Homo sapiens: one gene and its partners. The protein of the gene in region 4 purifies or fractionates together with the protein of the main gene of each other region. This does not show direct contact. Each region holds a gene or a part of one and is shown on either strand. Other genes may lie near its edges. The genes, in order: EIF4H, BZW2, SGK1, PFAS, ITM2C, PPP6R3 and PPAT.

Region 1 (4,102 bases), on a different chromosome or scaffold from region 4:
GCAACATAGTGAAACCCATCTCTATTTAAAAAAGAATTCTAAACTCCCTAACTGAATCCTGATAAAGAATAAATTTGGAGTTTTGCCAGTTTTTAGATGGCACCATTTCAGCCACCTCAATTCTTGCCACCTCCAATTTCCACCCTAATTCTCAGGATCGGTGGTTTTCCACTAAGCACTCATAGCTTTGTTGCAATTAGAAATATAAAATCAGTATTACTCTGCACTTTACTGCCAATGGTAGATGAGAAACTGGAACCTCAAAAAGATAATTTAGCAAACTGCAAAACAAAGTCCATTCAAGATCTGGTACAATCAACTCTTGATCATTTGGAATTTTGTTTTGATTTGCTTGCTGAACAATGCAGTCCCTGGTTCTCTCCCTGGCTGCTGGGGACATGCCCTTACAGGCTCGGGGGAAAAAAGCAGTGGTTCAATACTGTTTCCTGACAACTGCACTGGTTATTAAACACAACTACGAAATAAACTTAGGAAGATGTATAACTACCAAACTATGTTTTATGATGATAACTGTTCATTTTAGGCCTACCATTTCTTTCACCTGTGACCCAAGTAATTCAGAGGTGAGATGTACGAGCCTGTCTGAGGCATTTTAGACAAGGGAGAAGGTGCCTACACAAGTACCAAACAATGCAGTGTTAAAACTGCTTTCCATAGGTGGCAATCTTCTATGATGCTTAAGCATTGTAAAGCAGTGACATTTGTTCATGTGGACATAATTAAAATAATTGAGGCCGGGCGCGGTGGCTAATGCCTGTAATCCCAGCACTTTGGGAGGCTGAGGCAGGAGAATCGCTTAAACCCGGGAGGTGGAGGTTGCAGTGAGCCGAGATCACACCATTGCACTCCAGCTTGGGCAACAAGAGTGAAACTCCATCTCAAAAAAAAAAAAAAAGAATACACATGTATAAATGAATATGTAAATTCACCAACAAGTTTTTAAAACTACTTCTGAAAGTAGCAATACTTTATGTAGTTTCACATTAATATGAAGCCAAATAGAAAATTCCAAGTAAGTGAGACATAGAAGATGCTTAACAGTAAAGAGACTTTCTATTAGGAAGTTCAAGTGATGCACAGTGCTACCTAGGAAACTCTCCTATCAGTTTTTGGAGTACACCTGGGGCAAATGGCTAATATTTTCATCTGCTGTGGAGATTTGAAATTAATAGCATCTTAATAGAATTTTACTTCTGATTGTTCCTGGCACCCCCAAATGTCAAAATTTGACACCAGAAGAGCTGGCAAATGTGTCTGAAGGAAATTTTTTTAAATCCCCACACTCAGTTTAATAAGGTCACCTTATTGTAGTCCCAATGCAACTAAAACTTAAATTGACCACGCTGTTTAAGAAGAATTTTTCTGGGTACTTCTGTGAACGTTTTTTGGAACTAGGAAAAAAAAAAAAACCCTAGTTATTAAATTTCGAAATGACTTGAGAACAAATTTGATGTTTAGAAACCTAACCCAAAGGCGATAATTTCATGTCATCCAACATTTACTTCTTTTTTTATTAGCAAATAAAATGTTCTTTGGAATGACAATAGCTCCACCTACACCGGCACACTTCCACGTTACAGTATCATGAACATTAGCTACACTCCTGCCCCGAAACAAGCTTTTGTCTGAGCCGTTCCCAAACCAAGGTATTAAAAGTGATCATTCTTTACCAAACAAAGATACTTTTGGACTGCAACCCAGGAGACTGAACACCTCAGTGTGTATTATTGTGGTGTTATCCTGGGAAAGTAATCCTTTCTGCAAGAAAACACAAAGCCCAAGTGTGTCCTTGACAAACAGCAAGATGTTCATAGCCTATATTCTAACGAGGCAACTTGTATTTAAAAAATAAAATAAAAAAAAGTGCAGAGTCCTGGAATTAAACACCATGAGCTCTCTATTCAAAGATGTTTCTTTTAAGCAAAGTGTTTCAATTATACATAGTTGTCTGCATTTGACAACAATCAGGACGACGCTAAATGCGGTTCCTTCTCCAGATCAGAGCGAGAAACCAAGGAGAAATGAAATTGTGCCAAAGAGCACGTAGCACCTGTCAAGGCACTGTGACCCAAGAAAGATTAATACAAAGAAGCTACGATGGATTTATCTCCTTGGTCTCCCCCCGCCCGCAAGGAGTCGTACCATCCCCGGGCCAGAGCCGCCAAATCCCTGCCTCACACGTAAGGGGAAGGGAATCGCCCCTCTTGGCTGCCGACCTTCCCCAGTCGGCCGGCCTCGTGGCGAAGGGGCCAGGGGCCTGCAAGGCGGGCAGGCAACAGAGGGCCGCGAAAGAGGCCGGGACCGGAGCGGGGCAGGCCGTGTGGCCCGTACCCCAGCGCCACAGCTCAGCCCCGCACTGGTCCTACCGTAGGGGGGATGGGGCTGGAAGCGGGCGCTCGTCTCCGGGCATCGGCGCCGCCGCGGCCAAGGCAGGGCAAAAACCAACACGTTGTCGTTGGCGGGAGGCAGTGGAAGGGATCCGCCCCGCAAGCAAGACCCCGGGAGCCCAGCCGCCGCCGCCCCGTCTCCGAGCGCGCCATTTCCAGGCCCCGGCCCTCCAGGCGCCGCTCCTAGGCCTCCGCGGGCCCCCGCCTCCCGCCGCCCCGGCTGAGCGCAGGACGGCCGCCACCCTGACGGCCCCGACTCCGCCGGTCCCGCAGCCCCCGACGGGGCCCGCGCACGCCCGCCTCACCCTCTGCCGCCGCCGAAGCTGCTGTAGGCCCGATCGTCGTAGGTGTCGAAGTCCGCCATTTGCCGTCTCCGCTCCGAGAGGAACCAGGGTGAGCGAGGAAGGACCCCGCAATATAACTCCCCCCGCCCCGCCGCCGGGGCTGTCCGCCGCGCCGCCTGATCGCAAATCCCTTGGACGCAGGCACGCGCACGCGCGCGCGCGCACGCACGCACGGACGCTGGCCGCGCAGCGCCCGGCCCTGGGCCCACCGGCAGCTGCCTGCCCCGTGCGCTCTGCAGCCCACGTGGTGCGGCGGCGTCCCAGCTGGACGCCTGCCCGGCCTACGCGGCCCATTATGTGCTGGCCCTGGGGTGCGCCCGTGGCTGCCTCCTATCCCCGCCGCACCACGCCCGTGCGCGCCGGCCTTTCCGTCCGTCGGCGGGAGGTGACCTGGAGAGCTGGGGGGAACTCCCTCTCCAGTTCGCCTGGGACGCTGCCTTTCGGCCTCCATACATGGCGGGGACCTCGGAGGCCTGTCCCGCTTGGACCCCCAAGTGGTCCCCGGGTGACACCCAAGTAAAGGCCACCTCCTTCTCCAGGCAGGAGCTGGCCACACGATGAGGATGCCCCGGAAGGGGGTGCGAGGCGGTGGGATGCAGACACGAATCCTGCCTTCCAGGGCTTACTCGCTGCCTGGGTATTGGGGGGTTTTGAGAGGAGAGAGTATAGGTGATCGGTGACTTAGCAAGAGAGACTGCACATCTCGGTTTTTTGCAGAAGTCGTTGCCTTGGAAAAAGAATTGGATACTGTTGTGGATTCCATCATCTAGCAATAACAAAACATGGTTATGCAGTGGGAATTAATTACACGGGTAAATTTCCAGGTTTGTGATTGAGATGGTAGTAATTGTGGATGCCACGATGTTGACAAACCTTAATTATCTAAGCACACTTTGAAAGAACCTCATAGAATTTTGTTGTGATGTGTACCTAGGTATCTTCCGCTTAACCATTACTTTTTATTATGTATTTATTGGTTCGTTGTTGAGACAGGGTCTCGCTCTGTCGCCCAGGCTGGACTGCGGTGGAACAGTGGTAGCTCACGGCAGCCTTGACCTCTTGGGCTCATGCCATCCTGCCGCCTTAGCCTCTGGAGTAGCTAGGACTATAGGCGGGCAGTACCTCGCCTAATTTGCATTTTTTTTTTTTTTTTTTTGAGATGGAGAATCAGGTTGGAGTGCAGTGGCGCAATCTCATCTCACTGCAACCTCCACCTCCTCGGTTCAAGCAATTCTCCTGCCTCTGTCTCCCGAGTAACTGGGGTGACAGACGTGCACCACCACACCCAGTTAATTTTTGTATTTTTAGTAGAGACAGCGTTTCACCATGTTGCCCAGGCTGGTCTTGAAC
Region 2 (3,500 bases), on a different chromosome or scaffold from region 4:
TTCACTATGTTGGCCAGCCTGCTCTCAAACTCCTGACCTCAGGTGATCCACCCACCTCTGCTTCCCAAAGTGCTGGGATTACAGGTGTGAGCCACCACACCTGGCCTGAATTCACTCTTACTCATTATTATCCTTCCACTTTATATTTCCATTATTTAAAATTGCCAGTTAATTGGTAAAGGTGTCATAAAAATCTATAGAATTCCATAATGCGTGATTAAGCTAAATGTATTTTTCTCCTTTCACATCTACTAATCATTTCTTCCTTATTGTCCTCCATCAGAGTGGATAATTTAAGCATTTCATTTCTTTCTTTGTTTTTACATGTAGAGATTTTTATTGCCGTGATTTCAGAAAGGAAAGCTAAGATGTTGGCAAAATGTTTGATACGAAAGATAACTCTAGAATTTTAGTTTTAGAAAATCAAGTAAAATCTGTGGAAGAGGTAAATATTTTGACATATAATGAGACAGTGTTTAAAGGTCATCAATGTTTGTAAACAGAATCATACCTTCTTCTGCATTTTGTAACCACTCAACAAATTTCTTCATCTGGTCAAGAAAAACACTTTTGCCTTTAGCAACATGTGCTTCCTTATACCATTTCAGTATTGCTTCTTCGCTCAGAACATCAGCTGCAATTTTAAATCAAAGATTTCAAAGTTACTATACAAATGTCATGTTTCAAAACAACTTCATGTATTACAGTTTAATAGAAAGCAATCATTTTAAATATAAAGCATTCTGTTACTTATCAGAAGAGAGGAACCAAGTTGATTTTCATGTAGCATAGTGCCATATTTTGATAGCTTACTAAAGGCTTAAGTACTGATGATGATGATATACATCTTCTTAGGCATGATATAATGCAAGCCTATAGCTCACTACTAGGACTTGGAAATCTCTCACAGTGCTAATTTGCTGGTAGGAAATAGAATTGTTTTGTAATTTTGCAAATGAACCAGCAATTCCAGCATTTTAGAACATTTTGGGTCCTGCCAAGTTCAACCATATCTTGATTAAAGAGTAACCTCAAATGACCAGTGTCTTTTAAGGAGATTGGGATTTTCTTTTTTTAGGAGAAAAATGACAAAGGAAAAAAATGTAGATAGTATGCAATAATGATGTTAGCAATTAGATATAAAGAGGAACTTCTGGGCTATGTTGTGGGAGTAATACACACCTAAACTGAAGTTCTACACTTTCTCCATCACTAAATCACGACTTATTTTCCCACAGTATATCCCAAATTACAAGAGTAATATTTTTCCTCTACTACATTAAGACAAAATAGACATATTAGCTAATTTCCTACAGGTTTCTAAAAACAACAAAAAATGTTAACTATCTTTTGTCTAAAACTCTAAATTCCACAAATGTGCCTTGATATTCTCAACATAACATTAATTGAGAGTATTTAATGTTAAGAATAGGAAGGAGAATATAAAAATAAGTGTACATAGTCTCCCAATGTTCTAATGGGTTGTTCTAACATTCTTCTAATGTTCCAATGTTCTAATGGGTTGTTGTTTGGGAATCTGTAGTGGGAAACGAGACAGAAAACAGGTACAAAGCATTTATTATTGTCCCCGAGATGTGCTCAATTCATTACAAATACTGATAAAGCCATATAATGTTAATAAATTACTTTAATGATATCTTTTCAGTTAAAATATAATTTCAACTTATGAAAATGACAGAAACAATTTAATATTGTTTTCATTTAAAACATCACTGGTAGTTTCATAACAAAAACATTGGCTTTTTTTATTTTTAAAGAATTATTGGCTCTTGGAAAATGTTCTTGAATTAAATTGAAGAGGCTGAGCTGACTAAAATGAACATGATTTGTTTATGAAAATAAAAGGTTTTTTAAAAAAACATGTTTATTATCATCACTAAAAACATTACATTTTGCAAAGGAAGCAAGAAGTCTGGATTTACTTATAGAGCCTGGATGTAAGAGCTACAATCAGGGGTCCTGTAGACTTATTCTTAGCTTCTAGTTATTTTAGCTCTTTGTTTCCAGCTCTCCACTGAGATAAAAGAAATTTCTACCAGCCATCAGAGCCTAATTGTCATAGAGCTGAGGAGCAGGCAGTTGTGTCCCGAGGAAGTGACCTGTTATTGTGTAAGACTGCCTTGCAGAGACTTTTAAAGAACATTAACAGGGATTTTAAAAGACCCTTTTATATAACTTGTAAATTATCTTTAAGATGCTTATGATTAGATCAGTAATTATCAAACTGTTTGGATCATGTCTTCCTGCCTGTAGGATAATTTTGAGCATATACACCCAACATATGTATATTTTTGAGTTTATAAATTATATTCATGCACTATTAAACTATCATTATTAATGTTCTGCACAAACAATATAATTTTAAACTGTGACAAACATGGAAAGGAGAATTGTTTTTTTTCTCCACACCTTAATGAATTGAGGATGATACAAAGTACAGGTTGGAAAGCTGATGTAGACTGCAGTTTAGTGATACTATTTGTCTGAGCTTTCCTTTTGAAGGTTGAGAGCACATTCCTGTGTTTTATTGCCTCACAGAGGCTGAAGGAGACCATGCAACTACTAAAATGCTTGTCAATGTCAGTGCTTGTGAAAAGCACACTAAATGATAGGTAAAACCTATCAAATGCATTGTTTATTGCAAATCTTGTGCCTTGATATTCTTAAGTTACCATTAATTGAGAATATTTAATGTTAAGAATAGGAAGGAGAATTTAAAATAAGTCTACATATTAACGGCGCAATGTGGAGTTCTTAGAAGAACCCAGGGTAGTAACAACTACTTGCTGAAAGATCAAACTTCTAGTACCAGAGAATTATTAATTAAAAGCTACTGAAGTATCTACACAGAGCACCATATGAGGCAAAGTATGAACATCGAAGAGTTTAAGAAGAAATTAAACTTCTATTTAGTGAAAGGAAAGGTCTGAAAAGGAAGGAACTCCTTGAGGGACAAAGAATTCAGACAATTTTTTCCCTCACTAAGGATAAAGTAGGGAAAAGAGTTAATTAAAACTGAGAAACCATTTTTGGTGGGATATTTCATAAATGCCTATTAGGAATATAGAATAACAGTAAAAGACAGTAAGAAAGGAAGACATTGTATGATGGCACATAGAGACTGGAATATATGTTTTCCCCTTCTATCTGGCCAACTTCTTCATAATGTCTGGTGAGATACATGTACCTTGAGAGCCTTCACTTCTCCCCCTCCAAATTACCTTTAACAAGTTAGGTGCCCTCCCTCTGTGGTCCTATCCCTTCTGACACCCTCTGTGTGAGGCTTATTTCAGCAATTGACATGGTGAGTGTAATTCTTTGTTTTCTTCTACATCCTGAAATTCAGGAAGTCAGGGACTATATTTTGTTCATCTCATTTCCAGCATTTAATGAAAGACCTGCCCTATAGTATCGATTCAACACACGTTTAAGGAATAAATTTGTTAACTTGATGAGAAAAAATAAATATTTCTCAATTT
Region 3 (3,179 bases), on a different chromosome or scaffold from region 4:
TGCCCAGCAGTTTCCTAAATGTCAGTACACATAGGTAGCCAGTCACCCTCAAAAAGTCCAGCAGTTTTATCAGGAAGGAATCTAAAGATATCTATCTTCCAAGCTGGCTCTGGGTCTCTCAGCTTTTTCAAACTAAATGTGTGGTCGTGGGATTGCTTGCTTTCGCAGGTTCTAAACGCTGTTTCCCTGGTCTGTTTTTCAGTATCTCGCACCTGAGGTGCTTCATAAGCAGCCTTATGACAGGACTGTGGACTGGTGGTGCCTGGGAGCTGTCTTGTATGAGATGCTGTATGGCCTGGTGAGTGGCACATTGGGAACCATGGAACACTGCCTGCTCCCTACAATATTGCCTTCACACAGCCCATGCTTGGCCATGGTGTCTTGCCCTTACCAGTACGCTTATCAAAAGCAGCTAAGAGGCATATTGGTTATTTTATAGTTCATAAGAATAATCACTTACCTGGTTCTTTTGTGCATTTCACATTTTACTAGATAGGACCACATTGAACCTGTGTGGTGGTGAAAAACTACCACTTATTAACATCTACCCCCTCACCCTCCACACACACACACACAAACACACACACGGGTTGCAAAGTAGACACTTAAATAGCAAGGGAAAAGAAAGCATTGAGGTGGGGAGAGTTTCTCAAATCGAGCCTAATATTTATTGCCGTTTATATCTTTTTCTCTACTGGTAATGTGTGCCATATGAAACTTCCAATTAAGTCTAAAGTAATTTTCCCCTTCTTTCAGCCGCCTTTTTATAGCCGAAACACAGCTGAAATGTACGACAACATTCTGAACAAGCCTCTCCAGCTGAAACCAAATATTACAAATTCCGCAAGACACCTCCTGGAGGGCCTCCTGCAGAAGGACAGGACAAAGCGGCTCGGGGCCAAGGATGACTTCGTGAGTGATGTTTTCCTGTCCTCCTGGGCCGGCCGGGACGTGCACTAGACCTCCCTGCCCTTATTGAATGCACCTGTCTAAATTAATCTTGGGTTTCTTATCAACAGATGGAGATTAAGAGTCATGTCTTCTTCTCCTTAATTAACTGGGATGATCTCATTAATAAGAAGATTACTCCCCCTTTTAACCCAAATGTGGTGAGTATCTGTCTCTCTTCTAAGTATAGAGAAGCCCAAAGGGCATTTATTTTAATTCAGAATTGTCTGGGGGAGGGTTGGAAGGAATACATTGGCAGATGTTTTCTCCATAAACCTGTTATTTTACCTACATAAAAAGCACATTTTTGTGTCCCAACAAGGCTCCCATAATTTTTAGACACATTTATCAATTCGAAGCACCAAAAGGCAACAAGTGAACATTATTCTTATGTTTAACTGTGTGTAGCCTTTTGAGATTTTGTGCTTGAAGTGGGTGATTATGGAAGTTGATATAAGACTTAAACTTGGTATTTAAAGCCTGGTCAAGATTTCCCTGTCCTGTGTCTAGTGTGAGTTCTTGACAAGAGTGTTTTTCCCTTCCCGTCACAGAGTGGGCCCAACGACCTACGGCACTTTGACCCCGAGTTTACCGAAGAGCCTGTCCCCAACTCCATTGGCAAGTCCCCTGACAGCGTCCTCGTCACAGCCAGCGTCAAGGAAGCTGCCGAGGCTTTCCTAGGCTTTTCCTATGCGCCTCCCACGGACTCTTTCCTCTGAACCCTGTTAGGGCTTGGTTTTAAAGGATTTTATGTGTGTTTCCGAATGTTTTAGTTAGCCTTTTGGTGGAGCCGCCAGCTGACAGGACATCTTACAAGAGAATTTGCACATCTCTGGAAGCTTAGCAATCTTATTGCACACTGTTCGCTGGAAGCTTTTTGAAGAGCACATTCTCCTCAGTGAGCTCATGAGGTTTTCATTTTTATTCTTCCTTCCAACGTGGTGCTATCTCTGAAACGAGCGTTAGAGTGCCGCCTTAGACGGAGGCAGGAGTTTCGTTAGAAAGCGGACGCTGTTCTAAAAAAGGTCTCCTGCAGATCTGTCTGGGCTGTGATGACGAATATTATGAAATGTGCCTTTTCTGAAGAGATTGTGTTAGCTCCAAAGCTTTTCCTATCGCAGTGTTTCAGTTCTTTATTTTCCCTTGTGGATATGCTGTGTGAACCGTCGTGTGAGTGTGGTATGCCTGATCACAGATGGATTTTGTTATAAGCATCAATGTGACACTTGCAGGACACTACAACGTGGGACATTGTTTGTTTCTTCCATATTTGGAAGATAAATTTATGTGTAGACTTTTTTGTAAGATACGGTTAATAACTAAAATTTATTGAAATGGTCTTGCAATGACTCGTATTCAGATGCTTAAAGAAAGCATTGCTGCTACAAATATTTCTATTTTTAGAAAGGGTTTTTATGGACCAATGCCCCAGTTGTCAGTCAGAGCCGTTGGTGTTTTTCATTGTTTAAAATGTCACCTGTAAAATGGGCATTATTTATGTTTTTTTTTTTGCATTCCTGATAATTGTATGTATTGTATAAAGAACGTCTGTACATTGGGTTATAACACTAGTATATTTAAACTTACAGGCTTATTTGTAATGTAAACCACCATTTTAATGTACTGTAATTAACATGGTTATAATACGTACAATCCTTCCCTCATCCCATCACACAACTTTTTTTGTGTGTGATAAACTGATTTTGGTTTGCAATAAAACCTTGAAAAATATTTACATATATTGTGTCATGTGTTATTTTGTATATTTTGGTTAAGGGGGTAATCATGGGTTAGTTTAAAATTGAAAACCATGAAAATCCTGCTGTAATTTCCTGCTTAGTGGTTTGCTCCCAACAGCAGTGGTTTCTGACTCCAGGGGAGTATAGGATGGTCTTAAAGCCAACCTACGTTCCAGGCCTTTTTAGCAGCATTTTATGGTGTCTGTCATTCATAAATCCATCCAAGGAAATCCTTTGCAATTTACTCATCTTGCAAGGATTGCTATGAAGTAATGCTTCCTGTATTTATTGCCTGTCCTGTGAAGTTGGACTATTTGTCCTGACATTTGGCTTGTCTTCAGTTACAGGTAATTCTTTCCAGAAATATTTGAAAGCCTACTCTGGGCTCTATTGCGAGTGCTCAGGATATCGTAGTGGACAAAGCAGACAACTTCGCCCTTCCAGAGCCTGATGAAGAAGGCCGACCTAAAGCAGTTAGTTGAGATGGAAATT
Region 4 (2,349 bases):
GTTGACAGCCATTACACACGCCCAGGCTGAAGGTGTCTGGCCGCTTCCGGAAGCGCCTCAGCTCAGCCCCAGCCCTGGGATGAAAGGTCACAGCAGCTGCCCACCCTAGCAGGGAATAGGGAAGTCAGGGTGAGACATGGAGGACCTCAAAAAAGGGAATTGGGAATGAAGGGGCATAACTGCTCTGTTTCTTTTCTTTTTTCTTTCTTCCTTTTCCCTCCCTCCCTCCTTCCTTCCTTTCCTTCTTTCTTTTTTTTTTTTTTTTGAGATGGAATCTCATTCTGTCACCCAGGCTGGAGTACAGTGGCATGATCTCGGCTCACTACAACCTCTGCCTCCTGGGTTCAAGCGATTCTCCTGCCTCAGCCTCCCAAGTAGCTGGGATTACAGGCGCCCGCCAGCACGCCTGGCTAATTTTTGTATTTTTGCATGCCTGTAATCCCAGCTACTTGGGAGGATGAGGCAGGAAAATCGCTTGAACCCAGGAGGTGGAGGTTGCGGTGAGCCAAGATTGCGCCATTGCACTCCAGCCTGGGCAACAAGGGTGAAACTCCGTCTCAAAAAATACATATATATATATATATATATTTAAAAATATACATATTTTAATAATATATAAATAATATATATAAATAATATATTTTAATAATATATAAATAATATATATAAATAATATATATTTTAATAATATATAAATAATATACATTTTAATAATATATAAATAATATATATAAATAATATATATTTAATAATATATATTTTAATTACATATGTGTATATATATACTTTTTTTCAATGAAAAAATTAAAAATTTACTACCAGCCTTCTGTTGGCATGTGGCCCAGAACGAATGGGCCCACTCTCTCGTAGCTCGGTGGAGTGAGAGGCCAATCCCCAGCCCAGGAAGATGGGGCTAAAGGCACCTCTTCAGGAATGTGGGGGAAGGGAGTGGGCAGAAGCCTGCACACTGACCTTTGGCAGAGCCCAGGACATCTGCATAGCTGAAGCCGCCCACGAAGGCCACGCCACGGAAAGTGTCCAGCCCAATTGCCCCAGAGCAGAGGTCCTGCATGGTCACGTCCCATACCTGCGAAGGTGGGGAGGGGGAGTGTGGGTGGGAGGACACGCAGCTGAGGCTGGACAATCACCCCCAGCTGCCCCCTACCCTGCTCACCTCAAACCCAGCTAAGTGGAAGGCATCGGCCATCTCCCGGTCTCCATTACTGCCCTCCTCTCGCAAGATGGCGACTCGGGGGCTGGGACCACCTTGGGGGAGAATAAGTGTCTTTGGGCCAGAAAGTCACTTCCCCACCCCAACTCCCCAGACACCTTTCTGAGGGCAGGCCCAGGCATCCAGGCTCAGTGCCCCCAGGACGCGGAGCCTCTGCACACACTCCCTCACCAGGCTCACGGGGCACGGAGGCTTTGGGAAAGGTGGGGGGCAGGCAATAGCTGGGCCCCATCCGCTCCCTCAGGCCCCGTTCCTCCTCTGCCACACAGCGAGGCTCTGCCTGTAGCCGGTCCAGCTGGAAACTCGTCTCCTCCCAGAGGGCTCGCAGCTCCCCAACAGGCTCCTCCAGAACCACAGCCCCGTTCACTGACACCCGGACCTAGGAAGAGGAACAAATCTCCCACGGGCTAGGAGAAAGGATGGCCCCCTCCACAGTGGGAGAGGGATGGACCGCGGCCACCCCACTCTGACTGCCCACTGCACACCGCTCTCTCCCTCACTTCCTCACCATGGCGTGGGGCCCGGCCTCGCCTGTGTGGCCCAGCTCCAGGCAATGGAGGCCAGCATCCCGGTAACGCTTCAGCACCTGGGCCAGGTCTGGCTCCTGCACCTCCAGCACGAGGCCTGGCTCCTCAGCGAACAGCACAGACAGGACTGGGAGAGCAATGTGGGGAGTCAGGGGGATGCAAGAAGGGCCAAGGGAGTTGGGGCGGGATCAGGGAAATGCAGGAAGGGCCAGGGTGAGGGTCAGAGGGATGCAGCCAGAGAGTAGGGTAGGGATCAGGGAGGATGAGGGCTAGGACGGCAGGACTGAGGATGTTTCATCATGGACATCTCAGGGATGGGAAGTCTCAGAGGGGTGCAGTCAGGAACATGGTGGGTGTCAGCCAGTTCCATCCAGTTCAGCTGTCAGAGAGACAGCACAGAAAAGCTAGTCAGGGAAGACTCAGGGAAAGGGGACTGGAGGGCACTCCACTCTTTAATATATTGGAAATGGGGTCTGCAGGGTAGAGAAGGCAGCCCGGGCCTGAGACTAGACCCCAGGTTCCTTACCATCAACCCTGGGGACAGGCACATCCACCTGTAGCCCGCAATTTCCAGCAAAGGCCATCTCCAGC
Region 5 (2,404 bases), on a different chromosome or scaffold from region 4:
TGGGGTCCACCTAGACATGGCTCTGGCCAGCTCTCCTGCCGCTTCCAGAATTCTCTGGAGAATGTGACCCTGTGATTATCACACCAAACCTCACTTCAGATCCTCCAGGAATGGTTACAAATTGTCCAGACGTGGTGGAGAATAGGACACCGCCCTTGTGCTTAAGGACATGCAATAATGATGTCATCTGCCAGGTAGAACATTACAGGGTGGTTTACAGGCACTTAAAGCAGCACGACCTTGGGCGAGTCGGTAAGCTCTCCCAGCCCTGTTCCCCTCCTCACCCGGAAAGTGTGAACTCTACCTGGCTCAGATCCAGGGTGCTACGAAGGGGATATCCTACACTCCTTGGCTGAATCCAGGATGCCCAGCTCTTTAGGGGCCAGATGTCAAGGTCTGCAGGCTTCTCCCTGCCTGCTGCTCCCGAGGTCCAGCTCCTCGACCCTGCCCGGAGCACCCCTCCTACACCCATCTCCCCTCCAGCCACACTCAAGTCAAGGTCAGAAGTAAAAGATTTTTATTGTTCTATAGACACTTCTGAAAAGAGATCTAATTGAGAAAATATACAAAGCATTTAAGAGTTTCATCCCCAGAGACTGACTGAAGGCGTTACAGCCCTCCTCTCCAAGGCTCAGGGCTGAGAACGGTTAGCATATCGAATGATCAGTAAAAACATGCAAAAGTGAGAAGGAAAGGGAAAAAGGTGCATTCCCCTAAGCTGAGGGGGATGGAATTTCAGAACAGAGGAGGCAGGGTGGACAAGTACCAGGTGGCTCTCCCTTTCCCTCTGTGTTATCTTTCAAAACAGTTCCAAGCTTGGAGAAAGCAATGAGCTCCACCTACTCAGCAGAACCCACGGCTCGTCCCCCGTGGACGTGACTGAGCAGTGACCTTGCCTGCCCCGTTCCTCAGCCGCCCATCCCACTGCCTTGACTGAGGGGACCCTGCTTGTGCTCCTGGGGGGCAGGACTGGGGGTCCTAGCTCCTTGCTTCTTTGGTTCCACTCAGAGAACAGTTGTGCTTGACGGACTCATCCCCACTCCCCAAACTCCAAGCTCCTGCTGGTGGGCTGAAGGCACTGACAGAGTCCCTGGGACACCCCCAGGTAGCCACCTTCTCTTGTGCTCTGGTGGGTCCCTCCCTGGGCACATCGTCCCATCCTCAGCTCAAGCCCCAGGTCTAGGAATAGGGACAGTGAAGAAAGTGTACCCTCCAAGAAAAAGCTTCTGAGGACTTTTCTAATTGTGCAGATACTTCTGAAGCCCATGCCGCCCCGCCCCCACAGCCCCATCCCCTTGCCCAGGGCCTCACATGCCCGGCTCCCCCAACCGGTCCTTCCCCTTGGGCTGCCGGTGCAGCTGTGGGCCCAGGCTTTGGCAGGCCCAGCTTCAAGACAGTGGGACACAGAAAACACTTTGCAGCATCGCCTCTCCCTCCGCCACACCCAGGTCAGCAGAGATGGGCCCCCCACCGAGAGATCACAGCTCTGGTACAGGGAGGTGGGCAGGGTTGGAGAGGAATGGAGAGACATGTCACCTCTATAGAAACGCGTCCAAAGTACAAGCTAAGCAGGGGGAAGGAGGAGGGCCAGAGAGCAGCCGGAAAGAAGAAAAGAGGAACACGGCAGGGGGTTCTGGGGGAGGAGGGCCTCACACCACCCCGCAGATGAGCGTCTCCACCACGAAGGTGTTCTCGAAGTGGCGGATGGCATTGCAGTTCTTGGCCCCACGCTTGTTGATCCCTGGGAGGAAAAAGAAAAACCCCAGTGAGCCCTGCATCCTGGCTGAGTCACAAAGACCACCAGCCTCAGCCTGAGCCACAGGAGGGCCAGGAAGTGACACCATTCACCCAGATTCACCCAAAGAGCACAGTGAGAAATGGGGAGAGCTCGAAAGCTGGAGTCAGCCTGCCCATGTCTGCCACCTCCCTGCTGTGTGACCTCCAGGGTGTTAACCTCTCTGCACCTGTTTCCTCATCTTTAAAATGGGCAGCAAAAATAATAATGAGGATGAGAATGACTTACACTCTTAAGAGGTCATAAAGAGCACACAGCATTGCCCGGCACACGGAAGTGCTCTGCTAATGCTAGCTGTTATTGCTGCTGCTATCTGAGCTCTCTGACAGCTGGGCTAGGCGTGAAGATAACTGTGGTCTGGGGCACGGGACAGGGGCTACTGTGGGTGAAGCCAGCCACTCACGCCTCCGCGTTGCCCGGCGCCGGAGCCGGTAGGTGTCTTTCCCGTTGCACAGGTGGTAGATGAAGGACCCCAGGGCCTCCTTGTCACTGACATGCTCCGTGACCACCATCTCCTCCTGGATGATGTACGTCTGCGGCAGGTAGGTCCCCCTCTGCAAAACAAGGTGGCCGCCACAGTGAGTCGGCCCCTCAGGCTTTCGTCCAACC
Region 6 (3,500 bases), on a different chromosome or scaffold from region 4:
ATCAAAATGAAATTCTTACAATTTTTTTTTTTTTTTGAGATGGAGTCTGGCTCAGTCGCCCAGGCTGGAGTGCAGTGATCTTGGCTCACTGCAAGCTCCGCCTCCTGGGTTCACGCCATTCTCCTGCCTCAGCCTCCTGAGTAGCTGGGGCCACAGGCGCCCGCCACCACACCCAGCGATTTTTTTGTATTTTTAGTAGAGACGGGGTTTCACCGTGTTAGGATGGTCTTGATCTCCTGACCTCGTGATCCGCCCGCCTCGGCCTCCCAGAGTGCAGAGATTACAGGCATGAGCCACCACGCCTGGCCTCTTATAAATTTTTTTGAAAATTATAGAAAATTTACCACGCTAACTATTTGTGTTAGTTGCTTTGAAGAGAAAAAAGATACTCCCTTTCTCTTGGAGAAACGTACTCTTGTCTTTGTATGTTTGTTGTTGGTTTTTTACTAGATTCCATACCAGTTCTGGCATGTCAGATAAGCAGATAGCACGCCATTTAGGCTCTAAAGCAATACTTCACATCCCCATTTAGTCCTCGTTATTTATGAGGGATACCTTCCAAGACTCCTTTGGATGCCTGAAACCACAGCTATCGAACCCTATATATACTATGTGTTTTTCCTATACATACCTGTGACAAAGTTTAATTTATAAATTAAGCACAGGAAGAGATTAATAATAACTAATAATAAAGTAGAACAATTATAAATCTATACTGTAATGAATGTTATGTGAATGTCATCTCTTGGATTAGCATGTCTTACTGTATTATACTCACCTATTTTCAGATCATGGTTGACTGTGGGTAACTGAAACCACAGAAAATGAAACTGTGGTTATGCAAGTACTAATGTGAACTCAGGTTCCTTTTAATTGGTCCTTTTGGACTGAGAGCACATCATTTTTACTTTATTAAATCACTGTTCTGTAAATGTATTTAAGTATTGGCTTAAACATTGAGGTAACCGAATAAAACATGGTTTTTCTTTTTTGTAGAACATGTTCTTCAAGTATACATGGAATAACTTTTTGCATACACAAGTGGAAATTTGTATTGCACTGATTCTTGCAAGTCCTTTTGAAAACACAGAAAATGCCACAATTACCGATCAAGACTCCACTGGTGATAATTTGTTATTAAAACATGTAAGCTTATTTGGTCTCGTTTTTCTCCCACTCTCTCCTGGTTATAGCAGTTTTCCACTTGACTGTGATGTGAATTGAGGTTTAAAGGGCTTGAGGTTAGATTTCAGAGTCTAAATATTTGACAATCATGTGTTCGTTTCACTTTTAACATATAAATCATTATATAAATCAAGTACTGGACAAATAACTATTAAATGAACAGTCTTGTAAGAAAAAAGCTAAGTGGCCTCCTTATTTGGTAAAATTAATAGGTTTGAAGATATATAAATTCTTTGATGATTTGAAGAATCATAGAAATTTAAATACTATGGAAAACATTTGCACTATTATTTGGCTGACCAGAGTGTAGTTTCTTTGCTGAATACGTGACTGAAAGTCAGGAGAACTGAGTTCTTTGTGATGTTGAGAGTCTTCCTGGGGTCTCTTTTTCTCTTCTGTCAAATATGAGATAATTTTACTAAGTCAGTCTTCAGATTTTTTCTTGCTTGGTAGTTCTATGGTACTTTTAAAATTTCTAGCCCACACTTGGTTTACTCGCAAACCTAAAATGTAGAAAAGGCTAGCTTGGAACAGCCAAGTTGATGGGAAAGACAAATGACACCTGAGAAGAACTAGCCCTGCACATTCCAGTATTGCAGCCTACAGCAGTTGTCACTGACTTGCAGACTTTGGGCAAAACCCACCTGTTTTTAATATTAATGCAGTAATGTTAGTTCATCTGGAAGTAAGACGTGCTCACATTTTAAAAGTACAAGCATTACTTTGGATTCTAAGTTAAATTTTTGCCAAGGCATAGTTTTCTTTATTCCATTTTAATTTAGCTCAGGTTTTATATTTCTGTTCTGAATTTTCACAGCTAATAAAACCTGGCTTTCCTTTATAGTTAACTATAGGTAGTTAACTGCACTACCTATAATACTGAGTTTCCTGTAGATGTTCTGTGGAGGGTGTGGATCCTGATTTGAATCTCTGTAGTGTTGTGGGTGTCTGCAGTAGATTGATGATCACATTGCATTTGGCTTAGTAACATTTAGCTTGCTAGATTATGCATACTACTATTCTCTTTAACCTAGAGTTCTGTTTCACTTTAAAGTTTTGATGCTTTGAAGTATTAACTGGAATATTCTTTTTTTTTTTTTCAGCTTTTCCAAAAATGTCAATTAATAGAACGAATACTTGAAGCCTGGGAAATGAATGAGAAGAAACAGTAAGTAAATTGTTTTTTTGAAAGGAATTCAGTTTGGTTGGTAATATGAGGAAAATAATACCTCCTTGCCCTAGTCAGAAAAAAATGGAAATAATTACATGATACTGGCCATTTTACAATTTAAACTTTTCCCCAGATTATTTCATTGTAACAGTTGTTTTTATAATACTAATAATTTCTTGTTAGGTCCTCTTGTTTTTGGGGCAAAACAAGTGAGTTCGGAGTGTTCCCCACCTCTGTGCTGCCTTTGAAACTTCCTGGTCCTTTTTGAATGGCTACTGTTCTAAGAGTTATAAGGTTAAAGTTAAGTCCTTGATGATGTGACTTAGTGTATTTGTCCTGGTCACCTTATGCTCAGAACAGAAGGTATCACGTACATATTTTCATTGTAGAGAAGAGTTGCTTTGTACAGGGACCTAGAGGAAAAAAATTGCTCAGTGTTTTCTTTTTAGAAAATGTTTGTTAGCTGATTGGCAAGGTTATGTGAAGTATTAGTTGATACATGTAAGTAGCTTTGTTACACAAAACGTTTTCTTACAGGTGTTGTCTGTAACAGCATTCCTCTCTAGTGCCCTGGAAGCCTTTATGTCACCCCGTAGATTCTGAAGCATGGTGGCATAAGGGCGTGTTTGGGAAACACTCTGAAGGCATGCTTCTGTGTTTGTTTTTAAGACAGGTTTATTGAGATATAATTCTCATATGGTAAAGCTCATTTTAGGTGTACATTCCTAGGAATTCTGACTGATGCCTGAAGTCACCATCACCACAATCAAGACATTTCTGTCACCCCCAAAATTTCTCTCATGGTCCTTTGTAGTTGATCATTTCCCAGCATTCTTGTTATGTGTCTCTGTGTCTCCAGGAAAGCTAGATGACTCTTGGGAGTCAGCCTTACTTTGTGAGGTTTGATTTTTTTTTTTTAAATCGTTTAATAAGCACTGCTACTAGGGTTTTGATTTGGCTTCATGTGGGAAATTGGCATTTTGTTTGTTTGTTTGTGGCAAGGGGCTAGTATTGGTAGACCTCAGATACATTCTTCCAAATGGAGCTCTTTGGAGATGCTGTTTGTGGCCCAGTTGACATCTCTGGTTATATGTCTGACTCCGTCTTGGCTTCTCTGTGTCCTTCCCAACCTCCAGTCTTCTTG
Region 7 (3,500 bases), on a different chromosome or scaffold from region 4:
GTATGAGCTACTGAAATAGAATAAGCTTTGAAATCTTAAAATAACTTAATATATCTATATAAAAACATGTACACAATAAATATATACATTTGTCAATTTAAAAAATAAAAATTAAAAAAAAATTTTTTTCAAGACATAAAGTGAGGCCGGGTATGGTGGCTCACACCTGTAATCAAGCACTTTGGGAGGCTGAGGCAGGCAGATGGCCTGAGCTCAGGAGTTTGAGATCAGCATGGGCAACATGGTGAAACCCTGCCTCTACTAAAAATACGAAAAATCAGCCGGGCATGGTGGTGTGTGCCTATGGTCCCAGCTATTTGGGAGGCTGAAGTGGGAGGATCTCTTGAGCCCAGGAGGTGGAGGTTGCAGTAAGCTGAGATCGAACCACTGCATTCCAACCAGGTGACACAGTGAGTCCCAGTATCAAGGAAAAAAGAAAAAAAGGCATAAAGTGATATTAAAATATAACTTGGCCGGGCACGATGGCTCACGTCTGTAATCCTAACACTTTGAGAGGCCGAGGCAGGTGGATCACCTGAGTCCAGGAGCTCAAGACCAACCTGGGCAACATGGTGAAACCCCGTCTCTGCTAAAAATACAAAAATTAGCCTGGCTGCAATGGCACATGCCTATAGTTGCAGCTATTCAGAAGGCTGAGGTGGGAGGATTGCTTGAGCCCCAGAAGCAGAGGTTGCAGTGAGTTGAGATGGTGCCATAGCACTCCAGCCTGGGCAACAGAGCCAGACACTGTCTTTAACAAATACATTTTAAAAAATAATAAGTCAAAGGTATTACACTGGGATTGGCTGCATGTCTTCAAGTAGAGAAAGCAATCAATACTCCATTGATTTTAAAAAGCATTCTATTGTGTGTTTTTGACTTTTTTTTTTTTGAGATCACTTCGGCTCACTGCAATCTCTACCTCCTGGGCTCAAGCCATCCTCCCACCTCAGCCTCCTAAGTAGCTGGAATTACAGGTGTGTGCCACCACGCCCCACCCATTTTTTGTAATTTTAGGAGAGGTGAGTTTCACTATGTCGTCCAGGCTGGTCTTGAACTCCTGGATGCAAGCAATCTGCCCACCTCAGCCTCCCAAAGTGCTGGAATTATAGGCATGAGTCACTGTGCCCAGCCTATTTTGTGTAGTTAGTCTTTGAATAAATTTTGTAAAAATTTTAGGTTTTTTAAAATTTAATTTTATTATTATCTTTTATTTTTGTAGAGACAGGGTCTCACTATATTGCCCAGGCTGTTCTCGAACTCCTGGGCTCAAGCAACCTCCTACCTCAGGCTCCCAAAGTACTGGGATTACAGGCATGAGCTACCTCGCCCAGCCTTAAGCTTTTATATTGAGCTTTTTTAATCTATTAAGGATTACATTTAATGTAAGTGTGGCTGTGACATGTTCTTCAAGTTGCTACACAGTTATTCCTAAACCAAACTGATAAAAAAAGTTAATTTATTATATTGAACATCCATTTTGATTCACTACCCTGAATTGCAATTTTATGCCAGTATCTTATTGTTAACTTATGCTTTAGGATATGTTTTAATATTACTTACCTCTTTTGCACCAGATTCTTTGAGCAGTTTTATTATAGGTGAGATGGTATTGCCTCTGACAATTGAATCATCTACAAGAACAATTCTTTTGCCTTTAAAGTTGTCTGACAATACTCCAAATTTTTTTGCAACACCAAGTTGTCTTAACCTCATGTTTGGCTGAATGAAGGTTCTCCCTACATACCGGTTTTTACACAGCACCTCCACATATGGAAGTCCACACTGATAGAGAAGAAATGAAAGGATAATGAGGAGTAATATACAGAATAGGCAAATATTTTCTCTAGGTTGTGTTGCCGCCACAATATTCAAGTAAAATTTCAAAATAATTTTCCTTTATTATTTGGAAAAAAGGCAAAAAGAAAAACCACTAAACAAAATATACTTGGTGGAAAAACCAATTCATTTTGTGAGGACTCATAATGTTTTTGTCTTAAACATTATTCCTCTGTTTTGAAAGATAACAGTAAGCATATGAAGACATGACAAAGATTAAATCACTGTCAGAAAAATTCATTATCAAAATGATAATTTTTAAAGAAATGAATTAAAATAAATAAATAAAAACCAGTAGACCAATGAGATACTTTTTAGGGATAGGAAGTAATTAACCCATTTATCAAGGTAATCTTTTCTAAAATGTATGCATATTAATTCTTTTAGAAGTTAATAAAGTATCCAAGGTAGTGAATATTGGATGTTATACCCCAGGATTACTACAGTTACACCATCTACCTGGTTATGAAAATAAAGCGTAACACTGACAACATCATGCTAAATGAACATAAACAGCTTTATTATTACCCATACTTAGTAGCAAGCAAATATTCCAGTGACTTGTGAAGATAATTCAAGACGTTTATTTTAATATTAAGTAAATTTTTCCACTGAATATATAGTTGATGAACACCATGGGTTTGAAGTACATGAGTCTACTTATAGGTGGGTTTTCTTCCATCTCTGCCACCCCTGGGACAGCAAGTCCAGCCCCTTTTCCTCTTCCCTCCTCAGCCTACTCAACGTGAAGACAACAATGAGGATGAAGACCTTTATGAAGATCCACTTTCACATAAGGAATAGTAAATATATTTTCTCCTCCTTATGATTTTCTTCAAAGCATTTACTTTTCTCTAGCTTACGTTATTGCAAGAATACAGCATATAATACATATACAAAATATGTTAATCAACTGTTTATGTTATTGGTCAGGCTTCCAGTCAACAGTAGGTTATCAGTATTTAAGTTTGGGGGCATTAAAATGCATACACAGATTTGACTGTGCAGAGGGTTGGCACCTTTAACTCCCAAATTGTTCAAGGGTCAACTGTATATTCATGATGTTATCTTTTTAAAAAGAAGGGTGCCAATTTCTGAACGCTTTAGTGAACGTTTTTTTCTTTTCAGTGAACCTTTTAGTGGTTTTCACTAAAATAGTGCCATTGGATAAAAAGCCTGGAAAATAAAAAACGCTTGTAAACAAACCAACATTAACCACCAAAGCTTCCTTTCTCCTTAGAAATGTTGATGAGTTTCTCTTTATAGGCAAGGGTTTCTTATTCCACAGCTGGGAGAGCAATTCACTGCATGTTAATTAAGAGAAAATACCTTTCCTGCGTAAGCAAGAGCAGCAGGCGTAGCAGATTCTGGAACAGTGCTAACCAAATCTGCATCCACAGGTGCTTCAATCGCTAGCTGCTGGCCACAACGGTATCTTACTGTATAAACCATTTGGTCTGGTGTGTTTGGAAAAGGAGAGAGAGTATTTTTACTTAGCATGATATAACAGTGTTATTCTAAAAAACTAGTGCTAGAATTCTACAGATTGAGTATAAAAAGAAATGCAATATATACAAAAATATGAATGTGAAAATACACAAACTGGGGAACTCAACTGTGTGGTTTTAAAAAAAAAATCGACCTTCATATAGATCTAGAAA

Evidence for each region.
Region 1: the proteins of PFAS (region 4) and EIF4H fractionate together in Homo sapiens (co-fractionation; one large-scale study listed by BioGRID). This does not show direct contact.
Region 2: the proteins of PFAS (region 4) and BZW2 fractionate together in Homo sapiens (co-fractionation; one large-scale study listed by BioGRID). This does not show direct contact.
Region 3: the proteins of PFAS (region 4) and SGK1 purify together in Homo sapiens (co-immunoprecipitation; one large-scale study listed by IntAct). This does not show direct contact.
Region 5: the proteins of PFAS (region 4) and ITM2C purify together in Homo sapiens (co-immunoprecipitation; one large-scale study listed by IntAct). This does not show direct contact.
Region 6: the proteins of PFAS (region 4) and PPP6R3 fractionate together in Homo sapiens (co-fractionation; one large-scale study listed by BioGRID). This does not show direct contact.
Region 7: the proteins of PFAS (region 4) and PPAT fractionate together in Homo sapiens (co-fractionation; one large-scale study listed by BioGRID). This does not show direct contact.

Annotation. Positions count from the first base shown.
Region 1 is NC_000007.14:74,173,054-74,177,155, reverse strand, and holds the start of EIF4H (eukaryotic translation initiation factor 4H), read right to left. Parts: upstream 2,801-4,102; 5' UTR 2,773-2,800; coding exon 2,714-2,772; intron 1-2,713. UniProt on the Homo sapiens protein: Stimulates the RNA helicase activity of EIF4A in the translation initiation complex. Binds weakly mRNA.
Region 2 is NC_000007.14:16,701,681-16,705,180, reverse strand, and holds part of BZW2 (eIF5-mimic protein 1), read right to left. Parts: intron 635-3,500; coding exon 512-634; intron 1-511. UniProt on the Homo sapiens protein: Translation initiation regulator which represses non-AUG initiated translation and repeat-associated non-AUG (RAN) initiated translation by acting as a competitive inhibitor of eukaryotic translation initiation factor 5 (EIF5) function.
Region 3 is NC_000006.12:134,168,756-134,171,934, reverse strand, and holds the end of SGK1 (serine/threonine-protein kinase Sgk1), read left to right. Parts: intron 1-202; coding exon 203-298; intron 299-756; coding exon 757-912; intron 913-1,019; coding exon 1,020-1,109; intron 1,110-1,499; coding exon 1,500-1,667; 3' UTR 1,668-2,679; downstream 2,680-3,179. UniProt on the Homo sapiens protein: Serine/threonine-protein kinase which is involved in the regulation of a wide variety of ion channels, membrane transporters, cellular enzymes, transcription factors, neuronal excitability, cell growth, proliferation, survival, migration and apoptosis.
Region 4 is NC_000017.11:8,266,289-8,268,637, reverse strand, and holds part of PFAS (phosphoribosylformylglycinamidine synthase), read right to left. Parts: coding exon 2,285-2,349; intron 2,138-2,284; coding exon of another isoform or gene 2,115-2,137; exon of another isoform or gene 1,886-2,114; coding exon 1,740-1,885; coding exon of another isoform or gene 1,728-1,739; exon of another isoform or gene 1,611-1,727; coding exon 1,403-1,610; intron 1,267-1,402; coding exon 1,175-1,266; intron 1,088-1,174; coding exon 973-1,087; intron 106-972; coding exon 1-105. UniProt on the Homo sapiens protein: Phosphoribosylformylglycinamidine synthase involved in the purines biosynthetic pathway. Catalyzes the ATP-dependent conversion of formylglycinamide ribonucleotide (FGAR) and glutamine to yield formylglycinamidine ribonucleotide (FGAM) and glutamate.
Region 5 is NC_000002.12:230,877,345-230,879,748, reverse strand, and holds the end of ITM2C (integral membrane protein 2C), read right to left. Parts: intron 2,350-2,404; coding exon 2,199-2,349; intron 1,742-2,198; coding exon 1,650-1,741; 3' UTR 501-1,649; downstream 1-500. UniProt on the Homo sapiens protein: Negative regulator of amyloid-beta peptide production. May inhibit the processing of APP by blocking its access to alpha- and beta-secretase.
Region 6 is NC_000011.10:68,568,752-68,572,251, forward strand, and holds part of PPP6R3 (serine/threonine-protein phosphatase 6 regulatory subunit 3), read left to right. Parts: intron 1-996; coding exon 997-1,146; intron 1,147-2,288; coding exon 2,289-2,353; intron 2,354-3,500.
Region 7 is NC_000004.12:56,397,616-56,401,115, forward strand, and holds part of PPAT (amidophosphoribosyltransferase), read right to left. Parts: intron 3,297-3,500; coding exon 3,169-3,296; intron 1,786-3,168; coding exon 1,564-1,785; intron 1-1,563. UniProt on the Homo sapiens protein: Catalyzes the formation of phosphoribosylamine from phosphoribosylpyrophosphate (PRPP) and glutamine.